Linked DNA regions of Homo sapiens: region 1 is linked to region 2. The links come from fine-mapping of genetic effects on gene expression. Tissue or cell type: lung. Region 2 holds a variant in brackets; the other region holds the start of a gene. All regions are shown on one strand. Distances are from middle to middle.

Region 1 (11,039 bases), 21 kb after region 2:
ACCCCACCCCACTGTAGGAAGAGGGTACTGTGGCAGACTGCTGCCATGACCACACAGCTGGTTAGGAGGCAGAGGGGCCTTCGAACCCCAGGATGTCCAGCTCCAGGGTCCATGCTCTTAACTACGCTGCTATCCTGGGCTGCACGTGTCTGATGGGGTGGGGATCGGGGACAGGGATGCAAGCAAAAGCATAGAAGAGACATCAAATTCAGAAAGGCCCAGATTCAAATCTCAGCTCTGCCATTCCTAGCAGTGTGACCCTGGCTGATCTATGAAATCTCTCTGAACCCTGGTTTCGTCACGGTGGCGGAGGATGAAATGGGATAATGTGTGTAAGCACCTGTGCCGAGTCTGACAGAGAGTGAAGGTTCAAGGCTGATGAAGTGTCTGGCCACAGAAGTGGGCTGGCCAGGGAAGTGAGGGAACCTGTGGTGGGGGCTGGGGAGGAGGAGGGCTGGGTAGCGGGGGAGCTCCAAGGCTCAGGAAGGCAAAGACTCAGCGCTCAGCAGACTCTGGAACCAGTAGTAACCATGAGATTTCAGGCCATCCCAGATACCAGGTCCATGCCAGCTACCAAGGGGATGGCAAGAGAAACCGAAAGATGAAGAGATATTGGTCAAGGCGGGGCAGGAGGAGGAGGCAGTATGCTGTTTCCTAGAGCTTTTCAAGAAGCTCTTTATTATTTCAGTTCCTCTGGAAGTTCTGGTGGCCCAGGCTGAGCCTGGCAGATCCTAAGGGCAAAATAACCAGTTATTCAACTACCAGAGATGAGCAGGAGCACTAGCCAGGAGATGGGACAGGCTCTCTCTTGTACCTCTCAGAGAAGATTCTGGAAGCTTTTCAGGGCAGTTACAGGGAATCAGCCACTCTAATTTCCCTACAGTACAGAAAGAGAGCCCAAAGGAGAATGGGGGTGCCCTGGGTCACATAGAAGCTTTCTGCTTGAGTTGGAAATTAAAGATTTCCAGTTGCTGGCAAGTAGGGTCTCTCTTCTGGCCTGGGGGATGTGACAGCTTCATGCTTACATCCCTCATGGCACAGAGGCTGACAGGCAATGTCACAAAAAGAGACAGAACAGCTTAATGTTACCTTCTCAGTAAAGCTGGCAGACTTAGAAAAGGAAGGGAATTCGATAGAAGAGAACAGAGCTGCGGTGGAGAGGCACCTGAGGTAGAGCTGAGAGGATTTCTATGGCCAAAGCCACTGAACCCAGACTAGAGTTAGATTTGGCCGGGCAGTGGCTCACACCTGTCATCTCAGCACTTTAGGAGGCCAAGGCAGGAGAATGGATTGAGCTCAGGAGTTCGAGACCAGCCTTGGCAACACAGGAAGACCCTGTCTCTACGAAAATAAAAAAATTAGCCAGGTGTGGTGGCACATGCCTGTGGTCCCGGCTGTTTGGTAGGCTAAGGTGGGAGGATCACTTGGGCCTGGGTGGTTGAGGCTGCAGTGAGCTGTGATTGTGCCACTGCACTCCAGCCTGGGCAACAGAGTGAGACCCTGTCTCAAAAAAAAAAAAAAAAAAAAAAAAAAAAAGACTGCCCGATGGGTTCAAACCTAGCTCTGCCATTTGCTAGAAGGGTCATCTTGGACAAGGTAACTTAGCTCATCTGTGCAAAACTCTATCTCCATCATACAGGCTAAAAGAGGAAATGAGTGAATGCCAGCAAAAAACTCAGCCCAATGCCCAGCAAATATACAGTGTTGTCTCTGACCGTGACTTTGTTAGTAAGTGAGTAGCTGAGTTTCTGGGCTCTGTGTACCTACGGTGCTCACAGTGAGTCAGAAAAGGGCCTGGGATTGGAGATGGACAGCTCTGGGTCTTTGCTGGCTAGCCATGTGGCCTTGCCAGGTTAGCTGGTTCCTGAGTGGAGAGACGATCTCTGCTCTCATAGGAGTGCTCTGAGGGGTAAATAAGATTCTGTGAAATACAGTGAATGGAAGGGGGCTAAGTGCACAGTGGGGCTCATGAAGGTTGACTGACTTGAAGGGTACAACCCCACCCCGGACCTCGCCAGCACCAGAACATCTCTCACTCCTGGACTCTGAATGCAGAATCCCTCAGCAATCCGTCTCCTTTTCCTGTGGGCTGGCCTTCCCAGCTTGGCCTTCATGACTTAGCCCAGAGTCAACCATTTCACAGAACATTGGATAGCCTGAGCTGCAAGGAACCTCAGGATCATCCCAGCCAATCCTCTCTTTGTATGCTGGGGAAACTGAGGCCTACAAATGCTCTCGTGAGCTCCCTGGGAAATCTGGCACCTTCCACATTTGTTACAAAGCCTGAGTCAAAGCCAATGGCTTACCAGGCTGCCAGCTACTGGACAGAAACTCCCAGAAAGGGACTGACTGGCTCCACCATCTCTAGTCTGTGACCTCCCAGCTTAGGGCCCAGCTACTGCTTTGCAGTTTAACTCAGTGCCTCCTTGTCCCACCTCCTGCAGCAGGAGTTTCAAGCCCCCTCACATCCCTTTTTGCTGCAAAGGCCAACAGTGTGAGGTCCCTCATCCTTTCAAGGTTGCTCTGAGCCTCCCCTCTCTCGTGACTCTCCCCTCTCTGCCCTTCCACCTCTCCAAGACCATCCTCTGCCCATGCTCTCGATCCTTCCCTTTTCAACTCTTAACTTGTCCTTTTCCCATGCAGTGCCTGCGGCATCACACAGGGCTGCTCACCACCTGCTGCCATTACCTCTCCATGGCTACCTGGCCGCTGCCCTCTCCGGGGACTGCCTTTTCCTGTTGCTCCATCTCAATCTGTTGCTTCCTCTGCCTTTGCCTGTGGGCTCAGGGCAGGTGTTGCCTGCCATTGTGCCTGCAGCAACTTTCTCTCCATGGTCTATACTTTCCCACAGTGACCTCAGCCATGCACAACTCCAGTGAGCTCCAGGGAACAGACGATACCACACTTTCACCTGTAACCTGGAGCGCTCTCCTGAGTTCCAGGCTGACAGCTCCTTTGGACTATCCCACTGGCACCTCCCACTCTGCTCATCTCTTCCCATCTCAGTTCTTCAGCCTGGTTTCTTCCTGGTCACAGGGGCTTCAATTCTGATTCCCCAGCATCCCATCTGATTCTCCTCTGCACCTCTCTCTCACACAGGCCTGGTGCCTCTTTTCCAGGGACCTTAGCCTTATCCATGACTGCCTTGTCCCAGGCCCTCAGAATATCCAACCAGCTCAAGGCAATTCTCTCCTATTGGCTTCCTGCCCTGAAGCTCTCTTCCCTCTCATTAACCTTTCATGCTGTTCTCTTTTAACAACAGTGCCCGTACTTTATTCCTGCTATCAAAAACCTCAATGGTTTCCTCACTAACTACAGAATAAGGTGAAAATATCTTGGCCTGGTAGAAAAGGATTTCTATGATCTGGCCCCATTTTATTTCCCAAACTTAATCCTCTCTGTATACGAATTACCACCTCCACTGCCTCTAAATCTTGCTACACTTTGATCTCTTCCCCCAAACGTTACAACTTTCAGCTCCTTTGTCTTCTTCCAGGATGCCTTTCCTCAAGTCTCACACCGTCCTCCAAAGCACAATTCAAATGTTAACTCCTGTCATCCCCAAAGCATTCCCTCACTGTGAGATAACATTATTTTTATGCACTTGCTACAGCACTCACTAAACTGCTGATAATTTAATGTTCAGGAGATTGTCCTCCGCACCTCCTCCCCACCATCAGACTGTGAACCCATGGATGATGGGGCCTGATTTTTTCATGCCTGTCCTTAAGTCCTCAGCGTCTAACCTTGGGTTTATTTTTTGTTTAATTACAGTTCTGTCTTGTAATATTTGTTTCTGTAAGTTTTGTCTCTTTCACTAGATTATAAGCTCTTTTGAGGTGAGGGATCACATTTTACCAATCTTGCTAGCACCAAGCAGAGGACTTTGCAAACAAAACATAAATGATCTTCAACAAAAGTCTGCTGCATTGAATGAGCATCTGGGATGAGCCTAAACCCAAAGCAATAGACCGCCACCTAATATATCTGTATTACTCCCCCTGGGGAGGCAGGTAGCCAGCCCAGTGGGTAGCCCTGCCCTCTATTTTTGAAGTAAGATCTTTCCCTGTCCCAGACCTAAACTAATCCCAGGTCTTTGTCAGCTCAGTGGAGGGCTGCAGATGGTAAAGTTTACACGGATGCATAAGGCGTATAGTCTCATAGTCTTTCCAGAAAAGCACAAATATGACAAATATGCATGCAGGTGGTTCTTCTGTCTCAGCAAATTCCAGAGCCTGAGCCCCAGAGAGGACACTCCTTCAAGCTCCTGAACTGGTGCAGGGGCCTGCTGACAGAAAGATCCCCAGAGGCCCTGTGGCCCATCCTTTCTTGGCTGCCTGCTCCTGAGCCCGCAGCAGCATCAGTGTCAGGCAGAATTCTGACAGCTGGAGGATACCACCCCACCACAGAATATGAATTAATTCACAGGGAGGCTCCTCGAGCAGGTTACCTCAGGTGTCCTGGCAAATACAGCCCGAAACCCTCTCCAAGGGGAGGCAAACAGGCCAAAGATCAACCTGCAAGAGTCCGGAGGGAGGAAAGTTCAGCAGTCCAGGCTACCTCTTCCACCAGCGTTCCGCTTTCTCAATCTCATCAGGCGGGCAGGGCCGGTTAGGAGGCTGACTGCTGTTCCTCAATTTCATTTCTTTTCCTTCATAAACATTTACAGAGTCACAGAACATTTTACTTTCTAGCTGTGTCATCCTGGGCATCCCTTACCTCAGAGATTTTCCTCACCCATAGAATAAAGATAATGATCTTTGCTCTGCATCCCTGACTGGCAGGCTCAAGTGAGAAGGCACAGGTGAAGGAGCTTCCTAAACTGCAAAGCCCTATGGGTATTATTGCCAATCACATTATCTGCGCCAACCCTCTAATCTTCCCGAGGAGGAAACCCAAGCTCAGGAAGGTCACGTGGTAGCCGTCAGGATGAGACTGGGCCCTTCGGAGTGCCTGTTATTCCCAGACGGTTTACTGAGTGGTGATCACAAGCACCACCCGGTGTCTCTCTCCCCTCTAGCGTGGATTAAGAAAAACTCCTTGGAAAACTTAGGTTAAAGAAAAAAGAAAGGGTTCCCGGGTGAAGCGAGGTGATGAGTTGTAAAGCCAGCTTCACTCTTCCCTCCCTGGCTCAGGAGGCTCCTGTCCAGGGCAACTCAGCAGCCTCGGCGTCCACATGGCTGACCGCCGCTGGACTCTTGCGGGCGATGGAGGACTGGCGGTGGCTGAGGTCAGCACCTCCCACCAGGCCACCCGCTCCGAATCTCATCATCGGGAGGAGTGAGGGGCCCGGCTTCAGGACAGTCCGAGGCGGCGGACTGGGGTGGGTGCAAAGGCCGGCTTGCATTTTGGGAGAGTGGTCCCTGACCCTCAGCCCGAGAGGTGAGAGGGAGTGAAGATACGGAAGCGCCTTTCCCTGGCGCCCGAAGAACAGAAATGTCTCCCTGTCTAGCGCCCATTCTCTCCCTTAAAGGAGTTATGTTTATTTTCCTGAACTGTAATATTTCCCAGGCCGGCGACTGGCCTGGGCTACCGAACGGCCCCTTGGGAAAAGTAGTTCGAGTTCACTTCCAGGTAAGTTCCCTTCGTCCCGGCTGCCAGCGCGTTTCATTCTCGGAGACCTCAAACCCCAGCGGGCTCCGCCAGCACCCCGAAAGCTGAAGTCCCGGCCGCCCGAGTCTCCAGACGGCTCGCATCCCGCAGAGGAACAAGAGGGAAAAACTACGCCTCCCAGCAGCCACCGCGCGCCTCAGTGCGCAGGCGTAGCCGCGCCTCGCCACCCCTCCCCCTCCCCCAACTGCTCCCGTCGGTCCGTTCCCGTGTTCCCCCCATCAGTTCTAATGTCCCCAGTCTCTCCGGCACCTCACACTCACCGCGAACTCGCGGCGTCGGATACAGCCGCTGTGCCTTCTCCAGGAAGCGGAGCGCCCGGTCGGGCTGGTTGCTCTGGATGGCCTTGAGGGCGATGCTGATACAGCGCTCAGCTTCATCCTTGTTGGATTCCATGGCGGAACCAGAACGCGGAACCAGGGAGGGGGAGGCCGGGCGAGCGAAGGGCTGCGCCACCCGCCGGCGCGTCGCGGGCAGCCGGGCGCGGAGTGATGACATCCACCCTCCGCCCCTCCTTTCCCGAGTTTTGAGCGAGGGTGGAAGTGCTACCGTATGTCTTCTAAGAAAGGGACGGCTGGTGTAGGTGTCAATAATGGTGCACGCCCAGATTCCATGTTCCGGAGGTCTTAGAGTTGAGTATGCGCCAACCCTCTAATCTTCCGGAGGAGGAAACCCAAGCTCAGGAAGGTCACGTGGTAGCCGTCGGGATGAGACTGGGGCCTTCGGAGTGCCTGTTATTCCCAGACGGTTTACTAAGTGGTGATCTATATACGTAATGTAACTACATACGTTTCAGACAAAGGTTATTTATTCACTGAACAGATATTGAGTGCCCACTGTTTGTGAGGCATGGTTTTATGATGGGGATACAGGGGTGAGCAAAACAAAGCTCCTGCTCTCATGGAGCTTACATTCCAGTGTGTGTAGGCTGGGGGAGCTCCAGATAGATTCAGATAGTGATAAAAGCTCTGAAGAAAAATTATGGAAAACACAGGGATAGAGAGTGGGAGGCGCTATTTTAAATAGCGCGATAAAAGAAACCTCTCAGAAGCTGTCATTAACAGGTACCAGAATTCAGGAACGATAACAGGTAGATGTGACTGTCTGGAGGAAGGGTGGTCAGGCCGAAGGAACAGCAAGTGCAAAGGCTCTGAAAAGGGAATTCTCTTGGTGAGTTATAACAGATCAGGAAGGCGAATACATTCTAGGGAGCGTAAAGATTCTACTACAGGCTGGGCGCGGTGGCTCACGCCTGTAATCCCAGCACTTTGAGAGGCCGAGGCGGGCGGATCACTTGAGGTCAGGAGTTCGAGACCAGCCTGACCAACATGGAGAAACCCCGTCTCTACTAAAAATACAAAATTAGCCGGGCATGGTGGCACATGGCCTGTAATCCCACCTACTCGGGAGGCTGAGGCGGGAGAATCGCTTGAACCTGGGAGGTGGAGGTTGCGGTGAGCCAAGATCACACCATTGCACTCCAGCCTGGGCAACAAGAGTGAAACGCCATCTAAAAAAAAAGAAGAAAAAAAAAAGATTCTACTACAGAGTGTAATCCAGTTCTATCATTATCCCGTTCTTCGAGGGCTATCACTCCAGTGAAAGCAATCTTGTGAAGGTTGCCAGTGACCTCCACGTTGCCGAATCCCCGAGTCATCTGTCAGCCCTTACATTGCTTGGCCTTTCAGGCAGGATTTGGTAAGATGCTACTACAGTAATCCGGATGAGAGTCAGGAAGCTACTATTATAATACAGGTGAAAATTAATGGTAACTTGGATAAGGGTGATGGCGGAGGTGGTGAGTAGTAGTAAAATTCTGGATATATTTTGAAGACAGAATGACGCAATGGATGTGGGCTGTGAGAGAAAGAAGATTCAAGGATGATTCCAATGTTTTTGGCTTGATAACTGGAAGAAGAGAATTTCTATTTACTAAAACAAGGAAATGGAAAAGACTACAAAAGCAGTTTGGTGGGGGAATATTAAGGGTTTGATTCAGTTTATGATGCTTTTTAGAATCAAGCAGAGATACAGACTAGGATGTTGTACATACGTAGGGTTTAGGCAAAAAGGACCTGGAAATATAACTTTGGGGCCAGGCACAGTGGCTCACTCCTATAATCCCAACATTTTGGGAGGCCAGGGGTGGGAGGATCACTTGAGGCAAGGAGTTTGAGACCAGCCTGGGCAACAGAGTGAGATCCCATCACTACAAAAAAATAAAAAATTAGCTGGGTGTGGTAGTACACGCCTGTAGTCCCAGCTACTCAGGAGGCTGAGGTGGGAGGATCACTTGAGCATGGGAGGTCAAGGCTGCAGTGAGCTGTGATATATATATATATATATATATATATATATATATATATATATATATATATATATATATATATGCACCAAGGAAGTGAGTGTAGATGGAGAAGAGCAGAGAAGTCTGATTACTGAGCCTCACGAAATCCCAACATTTAAAGATCTGGAAGAGGAAGAAAATCCAGTAAAGGAGAATGTGAAGAAGCAGGTTGTAAGGAAATGAGTAGGTCAGGTATGGTGGCTCATGCCTGTAATCCCAGCACTTGGGGAGGCTGAGGTGGGAGGCTCGCTTTAGCCCAGGAGTTCAAGACCAGCCTGGGCAACATAATGAGACCGCCCCCCCTCACGGTCTCTACAAACAGTTTTTTTAGAAAAGGAGGGAGGGGGGGTCAAACGTCATATCCTGTGGAGAGGCCAAGCAATGTGAGGCCTGAGAAATGACCAATGGATTTGGCAGTGTAGAGGGCAGTGTTGACTTTGACAAAATTGCTTTTATCTATTTCATTTTATTTTTTTGAGACAGGGTCTCACTGTTACCCAGACTGGAGTGCAGTGGCACAGTTATGGCTCACTGCAGCCTCAACTTTCTGGGCTCAAGCAATCCTCCCACCTCCGCCTCCTGAATAGCTGGGACTACAGGAGTGCTCCACCACACCTGGCTAGTTTTTTTTTTAAGTTTTTTTTTAGAGATGGGGTCTCACTGTGTTGCCTAGGCTGGTCTCAAACTTCTAGGCTCAAGTGATCCTCTCACCTCAACCTCCCAAAGTGCTGGGATTACAGGTGTGAGCCACTGTGCCTGACCATAAAATGGCTTTTAGTGTGTGGTAGGGGTGAAAACCCAACAGGAATGGATTCAAGAGAGTAAAGGTGGCTGGGCGCAGTGGCTCAAACCTGTAATCTCAGCACTTTGGGAGGGTGAGGTGGGTGGATCACCTGAGGTCAGGAGTTCAAGACCAGCCTGGCCAACATGGTGAAACCCTATCTCTACTAAAAAAAATTACAAAAATTAGCCAGGTGTGGTGGCATGCGCCTGTACTCCCAGCTACCCAGGAGGATTATGAGCCTGGGAGGTCGAGGCTGCAGGGAGCCATGGTTGCCCCACTACACTCTAGCCTGGGCACAGAGTCAGACCCTGTCTCAATAAATAAATACACACATAAGAAAGAAGCAAGGTCATGGCCTCCTCAGCTATACATGCTCCTTGGAAAATTCTTTCACATCCAACCTTCCTTTCCATTCCCATTTTTCCCTTTCCAATGCAAACCCTTACGACTCCATGCTGGCCTGGTACAGACCCTCCTTGATAAGACAGTCCTACACTTGGAGAAATTTAAGTTCTCTACAAATTGATAGGTCCCTAATGTGTCCATGGATAAATGCTGGGATCCTTTTCAAACAGCCTCTCTGAGGTTTGTTGACCTAGCACGACAATTTCCATCTTCCTGTCTCCTGCTAAGAATCATGAAGTATCCTCTTCCATTTCCTATCATGAGGCCTGTCTTCTCCTGCTGACTACAAGATACAGTCATGTGTCACTTAATGACAGGGATATGTTCTGAGAAAAGTGTTGTTAGGTGATTTTATCACTGTGCGAACATCATAGAGTCCTTATACAAACCTAAGTTGGTATAGCCTGCTACACACCTAGGGTTTAAGGTATGACCTGTTGCTTCTAGGTTACATACCTGTACAGAACATTACCATACCGAATACAATGGGAAGTATTTGTGTATCTAAACATAGAAAAGGTAATGCATTGTGCTATGACCTTATGATGGCTATGAATGTCACTAGGCAATAGGACTTTTTCAGCTCCATTATAATCTTAAGGGACCATTGTCATATATGCTGTCTGTAGTTGGCCAAAATGTTATGATGTGGTGCATGACTCTACTTCACACTGTGAAGAAGGCAATCAAGTAGAAAAGAAAGTCTGTCATTTTCTTGTGTTAGGGAACTGGATTGTGACTGGCCAACTACTGACGGGTGAGCCCTTCTCTTTTCCTACAATTCATATAAAATGACAAAGTCCTATTTAAATTGTGGGTCAGTGCTTTGGCTTGATTGGCAGGGTCCAGATCAGTAACGATGTGGAGAAGCGGGCTGCTTGTGGTAGGGGCCCTTTATGCCTTATTTTTGCATTCTTCTCCTTGCCCCCCTCTGCTGCTCATCTTGGTCCCTAAGCTGTTTCTTTCTTTTTCTTTTTTTTTTTTTTTGAGACAAAGTCTTGCTCCATCGCCCAGGCTGGAGTGCAGTGGCGCGATCTTGGCTCACTGCAACCTCTGCCTCCCAGGTTCAAGCAATTCTCCTGTCTCAGCCTCCCGAGTAGCTGGGACTACAGCCACATGCCACCAAGCCTGGCTAATTTTTGTATTTTTAGTAGAGATGGGGTTTCACCTTGTTGGTCAGGCTGGTCTGGAACTCCTGACCTCAGGTGATCTGCCCGCCTCGGCCTCCCAAATTGCTGGGATTACAAGCATAAGCCACCGTGCCCGGCCACTGTTTCCTTTTGCTTTTTTTTTTTTTTTTTTTTTTGAGATGGATTCTCACTCTGTTGCCCAGACTGAAGTGCAGTGGCATGATCTCAGCTCACTGCAACCTCTGCCTCCCAGGTTCAAGCGATTCTCATGCCTCAGCCTCCTGAGTAGCTCAGATTATAGGCATGCATCTCCATGCCTGGATAATTTTTGTATTTTCACAAAATACAAAAAGTGGAGATTAACAAAATGCAAAAAGTAGGGGTTTTACCATGTTGGCCAGGCTGGTCTCGAACTCCTAACTTCCAGTAATATGCCCAGCTCAGCCTCCCAAAGTGCTGGGATTATAGGTGTGAGCCGCCACACAGGGCCTCCCTAAGCTGTTTGTTTTCAGAAAGGCTGTGCTGTTTCAGAAGGGATTATGAACTGACCCTGAAGGCTGGTCTAAGGAGCCCCTGCCTTTCTTACAAATCTGAGTCACACTGGATGTCTTGCTTTTGGTCCTGAGGCTAATTTGACTTTTTATTTGTCCCTCTCAGTCCAAAGGCCAGGAAAGAGAGACACCCCGCCTTGCTCAGGTCATGTTAAACATTATAGTCCCTGGTCTTGGAGCTGGTATGCTAGGGATGACTTGGGAACACTCTC
Region 2 (11,039 bases):
GCCACCAACACCCAGCTAATTTTTGTATTTTTAGTAGAGACGGGGTTTCACCATGTTGGCCAGGATGATCTCGATCTCTTGACCTCTTGGTCCACCCGCCTCGGCCTCGAAAAATGCTGGGATTACAGGCGTGAGCCACCTCACCCAGCCGATAATAAGATTTTATAAGTAAATGATACAGATGAAAAGTGCCTCCTGGCCTAGCGTGTCCATGGCGGAGGCTGGAACTCCGATCTTTGGGCTCAGTGCTTCCATGCCAAGGTGGGACCAGAGAGAGACTGAGGACTAAAGACATCCACAGAGAAGCAGCTCTGAGCACCTGCGGTGGCCTCCCAAGGCCTGTCACTCACAGCCTGAACACCATGGACACACTTGCTGCCCATGTGGCCCCTGCAGTGGTGGTAGCTGGCTTGTTTGACTTGTGGCTGGAAGCAAAATTAGGGCCCACGATGCCACCTTCTGCACGCAGGCCATGGGCTGGCAGCCAGCAGATGGCAGAGCCTGCCAGAGGTGATTCCAGGGCTTGTGGCCAGGGCAGCACTGGGGCGGCCGGGGACAGAATTGGGTCTGACTCCAGGAGTGGCTGGCCTGAGTGCTGGAGAGAGCCTCCTCCTCTACCCCTTGGGGTGGTGACCTCTTCGGACAGGAGTCCGCACTCCTCTCAATGACCAATGTTTGTGATTCTCATTTTGGCCCCTGCTACATTTGTCCTTACGCAGGGAGAGGAGACCTGGGGCCTTTTCAGCAGGATCAGCAGGACTCTGCTTCCCCCCGGAGGCAGGAAAAGGAAAAAGCCCCCGCCCAGTGCCCGTCCCATGAGCGACTGCTGCCTCCAGCCACCGTCCAGCTGGATGCACACCGTGGCTGATGGCCCTGGGTCTAAGCCCTCTAAGATCTGGGAGAAGTGTCCCCCAGCCAGGGTGTGGGTTTATGGCTGCAAAGCAGCTCCCTAGGGTGACCCTGGGCAGAGGAGTAGGCGAGGCTGGGAATGCTGCAGGTGGGGACAGTGCCTCAGTGCTGATGGGCCCTTCCTTCACTCAGCCTCCCATGGAGACCCCAGGTTGTGGTGCCCAGGCCCTGGGGCTGCAGCCCTGAACCTCTTCTCCAGGGAAGCCTTTGCCTAAGAACTACACAAATACCTCCAGAACAGGATGTGAGAGGCCCAAAAGGGCCAGGCCAGACCTCCCTGAGGAGGTGGCAGGAGGTTGGGCCCTGAGGGGTGAGAGGAACCTCAGGCAGAAGGGAACCCGGGTAGCAGGGCTCCACGGTGGAGGGAGGGGCTCCGCAGGCTGCAGTCAGGGTGGGAGGGCCCTGCACAGTATGTGGGGCCAGGAGGAGTGCAGGGGAGGTTTTGGGCTGTCAGTGTGGGGGAATGAGGCCGGGCCTGGCCAGCTCCATTCTGGCCCCACTTTCTCCATCTGAAGGAGCCCGCTGCATCCTCCTGTGCTGCCAGGCACCTGTCTCTCAGGCCTCCTCATCTGAGTCCATCAGGAAAATGAGAATAATCCAGTCGAGGTAGTGGGACTGCCAGCTGGGGTCCCTGCAGGCCCTAGCCTGATCCCTGCTCTGACTAGCACGGGCTCCAGTGGGGAGCTGCACCCTGCCTCCTCAAGGAAAAATCCAGCCAGGGAGCAGCCCTGCCCTCCCTCCCTAGGGACTTTGTTTAGACCAAATTGGTAGGAGGGTGGGGAAGGTGGACAAAATGTGGCAGGCCCTCCCCTCCCCAAGCAAAGCCCCAACTCCCGGGCTCTGGGCAGACTAGCCGTGGGGTCCTAGAGAGCGCCTGCCCGCCTGCCCCTCTTCCTGCCTGAGCCCTGGACCTTTATTTCATGCCCAAGTGGCTGTGAGAGTGACAGGAGGTCCAGGCCCTGTCCCTAGGGAAATATCTCCTTACAAGGGTCTGGGGCGGGAGTGACAGTCCTGTCTGCCCTGTTACCCCCTCCACCACATGGCCTTCTCTCAGCTTATAGAGTTAGTTGCAGCCTCCCTAAGGGCAGGCAGGCCACCAAGAAAGGTTCAGAAATGCTTGCTGAGTGAATTGCTGAGTGGACAGGGTGCAGCCAGGAGTGGAGAAGCTCAGTGTCTCTCATTCATGCCTGGGAAAGTTCTCTGCCCAAGGCCACTGGGTGGGCCTGGCATGATGACAGGTACAGACTGGGGGCCTGGCCTGGGCATTGCTCCCAAATGCGCTCACTTCTGCACTCTCCGGCCTCCGGGCCTCTGCTCATGCTGGAGCACCCACTCCACCCCCACCCCAGTACTGCCTGTACCCACCTCCTTCACAAACGCCAGTTCCTCTATCAAGAGTCCCTGGCTAGAGCCTTCACAACTGCTCCGCTCCCAGGGTTTCTACTCAAGGGCAGTCCTCGTCTCAGTCACCTTGGAGCTTTCACTGCTTGGAATGGGACTTGACACCCAGTCATTGCTCAGCTAATCTTTGTCCACTAAGGACAAACAAGAAACACCCAAATGGCACTCGCCATGTACCAGGCACTGTTCTAAGTGCTTTATATGTGGTAACTTGTTTACTCCTCACAACCATCCTATGAGGTAGGTGTTTGTATCACTCCCATTTTGCAGATGAAGACACTGAGGCAAAGGGCAGTCAAATGACACAGGAAAGCAAAAACTGGCTCCCTCCACCCTTCTAGGGTCTTTGACTGTGCTAGGAATTACATGGACAGATAAAGTGGTTAACAGGAGAAAAATCATATTTAATTACGTACATAGGCATGGGAGCCCCACAAAATATGCAATTTCAAGAAAGATCACATCTTGAGCTACAGAAAAGGAACTGGGGTCCAGGATAACCTTTGTACCTTAAAAAAAAAACCAAAAAAAAAAAAAAAAAAAAAACGGGCTGGGAGCTTCTGGTGGGTGATGGCAATGCAAGTTTGGGAGGGTGAGGGGAGGAACTGCATGGTGAGCAAAAGTTGTCTCGTTATGCAGATAAAAAGTCAGTCTCGGCCAGGCATGGTGGCTCATGCCTGTAATCTCAGCACTTTGGGAGGCTGAGGTGGGCGGATCACGAGGTCAGGAGATCGAGACCATCCTGGCTAACACAGTGAAACCCTGTCTCTACTAAAAATACAAAAAAATTAGCCGGGCGTGGTGGCAGGCACCTGTAGTCCCAGCTACTCGGGAGGCTGAGGCAGGAGAATGGCGTGAACCCGGGAAGCGGAGCTTGCAGTGAGCCGAGATTGCGCCACTGCACTCCAGCCTGGGTGACAGAGCGAGATTCCATCTCAAAAAAAAAAAAAAAGTCAGTCTCTCAGGTCTTAACAGTTGTCTGAGCAGCCCCAAGAATAATAGGCAGTTGTTGTCAATGAGTCAATCCTCCTTGGTAGGTAAGATTTCCAGGAGGGAGTTCAGGACAACTTAGGCAGATGAGGCAACTTCAGAGAAAGCCCTTCCTGCACTTGCTGTTGCTCAAGTGCCCCCAGTTTGAAGTAATCAGCACACCAAAATGGCAGATTTTGGGGTGGCATTTCCTGAACTCCTTCAGGGACACCCAAGGTCACCCAGTCAGTAAATGGCAAAGATCCAGCCTCAGCCCCCGTGGGGGCTGCGAGGCTGCCTCCTGGGGATGACGTTTCCTGGTGCAGCCAGATGGATGCCCGTGTCACTGCCAGGAGACACCTACTGGAATGGGCAGCTGCTCCCTAGGCCAAGCCCATCAGATGAAGTGCCACCATCCTCAGTGTGGCCTTTTCATCCTTTTCCACCCTCCTGGACTCGGGTCTTCTGCCCACTCTACCTGACACCAGTGGGTTTGATTTCCCTGAGTGCAGCAAATTTGGGCTCAGCAACTGTTTGTAGAATGACCACTCTGCTACAAGGACCCCAGAGACAGGCACAGTTTCTTCAAGACCCTGGGCGCCACTTTCCTCCCCCAAGCCTGTTTCCTGCTCTGGGAAATGAGCTGACTTGCTCATGTCACATGGCGTGATGTCTGGTAGGGACGCTGGGTTGCTTCTGAACCATGTCAACAGTCTATTTACCTGATTCTTGGCATGGCTGTGTGCCTGCTCCAGACGCCAGGTGACTTTGTCTGGGCAATGTGGGGTGGGGATGAGGTTACAGGCAGGTCGGGTGTGTGCTCCTTGTCCCTGGAGCAGTTTTTTTTTCTCTGGACCTGGGAGCAGCAAGGGACAAGGCTATAAGCTAGTGGAGCCAGGGAGCTGGGATGCAGTGGCGCGTTCTGCCACCTGACAGTGGGTGGGGGACACTTGTCAAAGCCTTTTTTGCTGCAGTCAGAGCGTGCATCCCACCTCCTCTGGCTCACGGCCAAGCCACACAGGGAGGGCAGGGGGGATGAGGTGGGTGAATGGGGGTGCCTGCAACGCCTCTGCCAACCGCAGCTAACAAGTGGCGGCTTGCACACCAGGGCAGGCAGTGGTGACCCTGGGCAGGGGCAGCCAATGAGCTCCCGGGCCACGGTGGCACCACTGGGCAGCCCGCCTGTCTTTGGCTGGTGCAGCCGCGGGAGGGGCCTGGGTCCGCCAGTCAGGGCTGCCGGGCCCTGTCTCTGGGAGGCCTGGGCAGATCTGCCGCTCCATTCACAGGAGCCCGACCCGACTTGGGCTGCCACATTTTAAACTTTTTCAACCTCCTGGAGAGGAGGGCGGGCTGCGGGGGCGGTTTGGGGGAGGATGGTGGGAAGGACGATGGAAACAAACTCGCAACACTTTTCCCAGGATCTGGCTCCTGAGTGGGATCGAGCTCCAGGCTGGGGCCGGGAATTTCGAATGCTCTGCGGGCACATGGCAGGCCTGAGGGTGTGGGGGGGAGGGATTGGGAGAGGGAAAAGCAGAGGGTGATGGTCGTGGCCCAGATGCCCAGCCAGGACTGGCGCTGGGGACCCCAGGGACCCAGACTGCTCAGGTCCTGCAGCCCCCCAGTCACCTGAGCACCCCTCTGCCTGGATGGAGTTAGTTCTGGAACAGCATGTGTGGCTTAAGTGGCTGTTAGCCAGGGCCAGGGGTCGGGGGAAATTCAGGCTCATCATCTAGAGCTCCTTGTGGCACAGGCTGGACAGTGTCAGCAGCAGCAGGGGCTTGTGCCCCCTCCCCCCCACCCCTTAGGCCTCCCTGCTCAATGCAGACCCACCACGGCCAGTCACATAATAAACATATATTAACAGATGTACAATTTGAGAATTCTAATTCAAGAAATACAGCTTCCAGAGGATCCTTTAGGATCTATGTTCTTATTGCACATGGCTCAGCCCGTCTAGGGACATCTACCAAGACCAGATGGTCGGGGCGTGGGGGCAGAGCACCGGGGCCACAGTGGGTAGGCACTCTGGCCACATCAGTTCTTATAATCTCTCTGGGCTGAAGTGGCTGCTTCATTGCAGGGTTGGACCTTGTTTAAAAACCAGATTTGACATTTCCTTACCGAACTTCCTTTCCCAGCAAGAATCCTATTTGTTGGGGGACTTTTAAAAAAAGAGCCGAGAGAAACTCTGGGAGGGTGGTTATCACCTCCTGGCTGGCAGCTTGGGGAAGTAAGGCTTTGGAAGACGGCGGGCGCAATGACACACCCACCGCCACAGGAAAACATGGTCATTCCAGAAGGCCCAGGAGAAACTGTGGGAATAAATAAAACCTCCCTCCTCCCACTGGCGGCAAGTGCTGTTTTAAGCAAAATCCTCATTTCAATGTGAGGGTAAGAAAACTATTCTGGTTCAGGTGTATCCTTTGTCCAAGGTACGAGAGGAGGCCTGGCGGTCACATCAACAGCGAGTGAAGACAGAGGCAGCCACGGGCACTGCCTTTTCTTCAGGAGTCGAGGAGGCTGCCCTGGGGTCCCGGCACCACTGACTGACTCGGAGGAAGAACTTTCTGAAGTCCTTGGTGCATGACTTAGGAAAAACCAGTGGCAATGATGGAGCTGTGCCCTGTGGCACCTATAAGGCAAAGCCCACTGAGGGACTTAGGGGTGGGGAAATGGTTAGGTAGATCCTGGCCCCCTCTGCAGGCCTTCCCTTCTGTGGGCAGGGGGCTGGAGGGCTCCTGGGCACCAGGACAAAGAGCCCACCAGCGCTGCTGAGAGGGGAGAGGTGGTCTCACCCAAGCAGGTCCTTGTGGGGCCTCTACTGTGACTCAATACTGACCTGGCACCTGCCTCCATGGCCTGCTCCTCTCCAGGTTAACCATAATCCTGAGGCCTTCGCGGGTTCACACTATCATGATTACTGCTGCCATCAAAACCAGGCTGGGGTTTCGGGGGGCTGTGAAAAGCTCTGATGCGACTCTCCTTATGCTGTCAGCTACAGCTAATGTCTAGCAAAAACATCACCAGGGTACCTTCCCCAAACAGGCCTCATTTTCTAAAACATGGAAGAAATCAGCTCAACAACTTAACCAAATCCCTGCAGAGTTTAAAAAGTAGA[CTA/C]TATATATATATATCTTCATATATGCCTATTTACATATAAATAGATATATATACATATACACGCATCTATAAATTACATTCTATGGAGAGTTCTCTTTCTTCCTCCTATCTTTGGCCAGGGCCTCTGGCTTCTCCTGAGAGGTGGCTGGTGGTGGCTCCTGTGAGGGAGGAAAGGCAGCTGGGTGCCCCCTCCCCCAGCCCTTCCCACTGATATCTGCTGCGAGTTTTACATTCTACTTTCGTTGCCATGGTTTCTGTATCCTAGGAGAGAGGCGATGCGGAGCCTCCGCCAGCCCTGCGAGGGAGGGAAGCAGCCCCATGGCAGGTTTTCTGTCTGTCCTAAGAGCTTTCTGCATTTACTGGGTGAGAGAGAGGGCAGCTGTGCAGCGTTCGGCCTCCAATTCCATTTTAATTTTGTTTCTTTGTTTGTCTTTCCTCAAATATACAGTCCATCACCTTGGCTCAGTGCATGTCACCAAAAATTCTCCAGGGATTTCATAGTCTGGGGAGGAGAGTGGCAACAGTTAGCTCGGCATTCAGGCGGCACCGGCTCCTCTAGCTTATGCCACACAAGTAGCCCCCCTTGCCACTGCACCGCTGCACCGTGCTGCCCGCTCGACCCCCACCAACCCCACTTGCGGCCTGCCCTCCTGCGGCAGCACAGAGGCAGGCACAAATGGCCTCCAGGCAGAGTCAGCCATGGATCCAGGCCGGGAGGACACAGGCAAAGGAGGGGGTGGGCAGGGCACCCACACAGAGAAGAACCTTCACTGCTTCTGCCCACACTTCTCTGGGCTTGGCTGAAGTGGCCACCTCTGGCAAACGCTGGGAACAGAGCCCAGCGCCCCCATTCGCCGGGCTGCAGAAGGAGGGAGCCTGCTACCAGCAACTCTCATTTCCCCTCCACCCCTCCTGTGCTGAGCGGCTGCGTCTGACCCTGAACTCATGACCTTCTGTTCCCTTCCTCAGACCGCAGGCGAGATGCCTGGGCAAGGCCGGATGCCTGTGGCTTCCAGGCTGCCAGGTGTGACGGCATTCGAGAGAGTGCCTCAGATCCCACCAGAGGGGGGTGGTCAGGGCCCGCGGCCCCTGCCGCCACCAAGACTGCCAGCTCCCACCCACCTCGTGGCTGCCTGTTCATCTTGCTCCATTTCCTCCTAGCTGGAGGGATGGAGAAAGGGGAGGGCTCTTGGCCCACCTATTCCCACATGGTTCTTCCTGGTATCAGGCAGGCAGTGTGCATATGGGGCTCTCTTGGGCCCCACCATATGTGATGGCCTAAATACCAGGGCACGGACAATAGTCTGCTGTGCTGGAGAAAGGGCCGTGCTGACTGATGGCTGGAGTGGACCAAGAAGCCCCGGGTGGCCCTCAGCAACAGTTTCAAGTTCCCACTCTGCCTGGTTCTGGGGTCCCCCACACCCCTGGAGCCAGGGAGCAGAGCGGAGGAGTGGGGAGGACAGCATCGCTAGAGGGCGGAAACCGACCTTGGTTTCCCAGCAGGCCCCACAGCTGCTCGGTCTCTGGAGGCTGGAGGTCAGGCTGGGGACAGGAGTCTTTGCCACAATCACCAGGCTTCCTCCCTTTCTCCCCCTCCCTCCTCTGCTCATGACCAGGGCCAAAGCTGCCAGGAGTTGCAGGGTGGAGGCAGCCCTGGCTCATACTTGGACCTCGGTGGTGTGGCTGGCCCAGGACTATCCATGCAGGGAGGCCTGCACCTCTGACAGTCGGCTGCAGCTGGGGGTGCCCATCTTCTGTGCTCTGTGGTACATATCTGTGTCGCCAAAGTAGCGTGCCCGGTACAGCAAGCCTTCCTCTGCAAAGCAATGGGACAGGGTTAGTGCACACCCAGTACCTCCCGAAGCCTGCAAGGAAGCCTGCGAGGGCTGTGGAGGGCGGAGGAAAGCTGGTACATGCCCGGGGCTTGGGCAGGGCTGGCCTCCCATTAGGAAGACCATGGAGGAGCAGAGACTACAGTCCTTATGTGGGCGAGGGTGACAGAGGCGCCTTTCTCTAGAATGCAGTGAGGCCAGCCAAGGTGAGACCCTGTCATCCTGGTCAGGCCTCCCCAGGGTCCCACAGACAGATCCAGGAGCACAGTCAGGGGGTGGCCAGGGATCCATCCGCTCCAGTCCATCTCTACACACTCACCTCTGGCAGCCAACATGCTGGGCTGATGGCAGTGATTTACGGGAACCTGAGGAAACTACCAGGTGGCCCCTGGCTCCCAGCCCCGGAGAAACACAGGAGTGGAGACCAGCTCTTGTCTGGGAGGTGGCTGGTGCAGGGCAGTGCCAGGGGCTGGGCCCTCAGAGCACAGGGTGAGCAGGGCTCTCTCCTTCCCCTGCTTTCCAGCTTCATCCCAAGCCACCTCCCAAATACAGCCCCCGCCTTCCCCCCACACTCACTCTGCTGCTTCTCCTTCCAGCAGTTGTTCCGGAGGTTGGCGATATAATCATCTTCCACATTCCGCTCGACTGTTTTGAGGCTGGAGCCTGTGTACTCTTCGGAGAAAGTGTCTCCCACATAGTAGACGACACCCAGGTGGTCAGTGACTCGCCTGTGGATGTGGCCCACGGACCTGGCCAGAAATACCAGGTTCAAAGTGGGTGCGGGTCCCCATGCCCAGGGCACTCTAGGGGTATGGGCCCCAAGACAGGAGGTGCCGCACAGACCAGAGGAGTAGTTGGTTCCCTCTCAAACCAGAGCAGGGACCCGCACACTCCCTGAAAGGAGAGTCTGAGGAAAAGGCAGCGTCCTCCCACACACGTGGCCCAGACCGCAGGACGCCCTGCCTTTAGATCCCTGCTTACCACACTGCTGACCTGGGGCCTTTGGGGAGAGGCCTGGTCTAGGGAACTGGAGACCTGAGAGGGAATCTGGGCTCTGCCTCTGTGCCTCCATCTCCCCATTCATCCCCTAAGCCAATTGTTGCTGAGTGCTTGCCTGCCTATCTAGGAGTTCCCAGTGTAGGGTTAAGAGGCTTAGGAACAAAATGACAGGAAGGGCTCCAGGGAGCCTTATCCTCCCAGCTCCAATCACAGGCTCTGTCAGCTGTGGGAAGAGCCTTGACACCCAGACAGGACCAGTGCTCTGGGGACAACAGTCCCTGCCCTAGTCCTCTGCTCCTCACATCTCTCCAGTTGCAGGGAAAAGGGCTGGCATCTGGCCACAGGGAGCCTGAGCCGGCGGCCAGGGTCCAGTGGACCGACTCTGCCCCCTGCTGGCTGAGAAGGGTCCTGCCAGCTCCCAGCCAGAGGTGGCCACCTTTTGGGAGAGGGGGACCCACCCCACTGAAGATGTGCACCCACTGTGTAGCTGACCCTGGGCCAGGTGCTGGACATCAGTGAGGGGAGCTGACCCCCTAACGGCTCATGAAATGTCCTCAAGTTCACTCCTGGCAGTCGAGACTAAGCATTCATTAAACTAATATTGTTGAGCATTTCTAGTGGGCCAGACATTTTATATGCATTACTCATTAATTTCCACAGCAGGTGGATGTTATAATTCCCATTTTATAGATGAGGAAACCAAGGTTATATAACTTGTTTAGGGTCACACAGCTTCTTAGTGGAGAAGCTGGGATTCTAAGCCATGCTTGCTCTGTCTGACTCTAGTGCCCTGTTCTTTCCACAGCCTCAGGAAGCCCAACCAGAGCCGAGGAGCAGAGGTTCTTCGTCAGGGTTGGCAGGGGAGATGGGCAGGGAAGAGTCACAAAGCCGCCGAAATTATATGCAAAACTCTGTGTGTATATGTGTGCGTGTATGTGTGCATGTGTATTATGTGTGTGCATGTATTGTGTGTGTGTGTACATGTGTATCGTGTGTGTGTATGTGTGTGTGCACATGTGTGCATAGTTTTAGGGAAAAGTTCTGTAGCTCTCGCTGCAATTTCTTAGGGGACCATAATCCTAAAAAGCTTAAGAGTCCTAGTTGAATAGAGAAAGTATATTTTCTTGATTCGAAGCCAGGTTTCTGCATTATGATCGCACACTGGCTGGATCAGGATGGGAAAGAAGGCCCCTGATGGGGCTGAGAATTTAAAGCCCCTTGTCTGCCCATGGCCCGGCCTCACCCATGTACTCACGGTCTTGGACTCAGACTGTAGGGTGGACTGGAGACCATGAGCTGGCTGAGAGCTGACACGAGAATCAGGATGAGGATAGGCATCAGCTGCACAAACACCCCTAGCCCGCCCTGGAGGGAAGAGCCAATGTCACTCTGCTGGACCTGGGTGGGGTGTGGTGTCAGCCATAATCACCACTAGCTCCCCTAGAATAGTGGAGCCTGGGGAGACATGACACCACTCTGCCGTTCCCTCCACGAGGCTCCAAAACACAGACGCTCCTTCACCTGCCAGCTTTCCCAGATAAAAACAAAGCAGCAACTGGTGTGAAATACAGGAGGAAGTGAGGTGTCTGCATTTACTTTTGACAGAATGCCAAAAAAAAAAAAAAATCAGCAAAAGTTGCTTCCTCCAGGAGAATGGAAGGCAGGGCTGGAAGGAGACATGCAGTATATACAAGTTTTTGAGATGTGAACCACACAAATATATTACCAATTTAAACATTATGGCCAGTGTGGCGGCTCATGCCTGTAATCCCAACACTTTGGGAGACCAACATGAGAGGAACACGTGAG

The links. PIP is the estimated chance that this variant, and not a neighbour inherited with it, causes the effect.
Region 1: DNAJB12 starts here. The variant in region 2 is fine-mapped to the expression of DNAJB12 in lung (TOPMed, PIP 0.95). The same link has a PIP of 0.9 or more in monocytes.

Annotation. Positions count from the first base shown.
Region 1 is chr10:72,348,892-72,359,930 of GRCh38, forward strand. It overlaps DNAJB12 (DnaJ heat shock protein family (Hsp40) member B12), which reads right to left and starts at 6,028. Exons shown (of 9, transcript NM_017626.7): 1 at 5,874-6,028. The coding sequence starts at 6,006. RefSeq lists enhancers at 5,485-5,614, 6,005-6,254.
Region 2 is chr10:72,327,717-72,338,755 of GRCh38, forward strand. DNAJB12 (DnaJ heat shock protein family (Hsp40) member B12) reads right to left here. Exons shown (of 9, transcript NM_017626.7): 6 at 10,486-10,595; 7 at 8,808-8,980; 8 at 8,064-8,215; 9 at 5,147-6,901. The coding sequence ends at 8,094. Among named protein-coding and RNA genes, the nearest start is that of DNAJB12, 22 kb to the right of the region's middle. RefSeq lists enhancers at 862-1,061, 7,101-7,510, 8,071-8,190 and a silencer at 4,345-4,594. The variant CTA/C (reference allele first, on the strand shown) is at 6,398.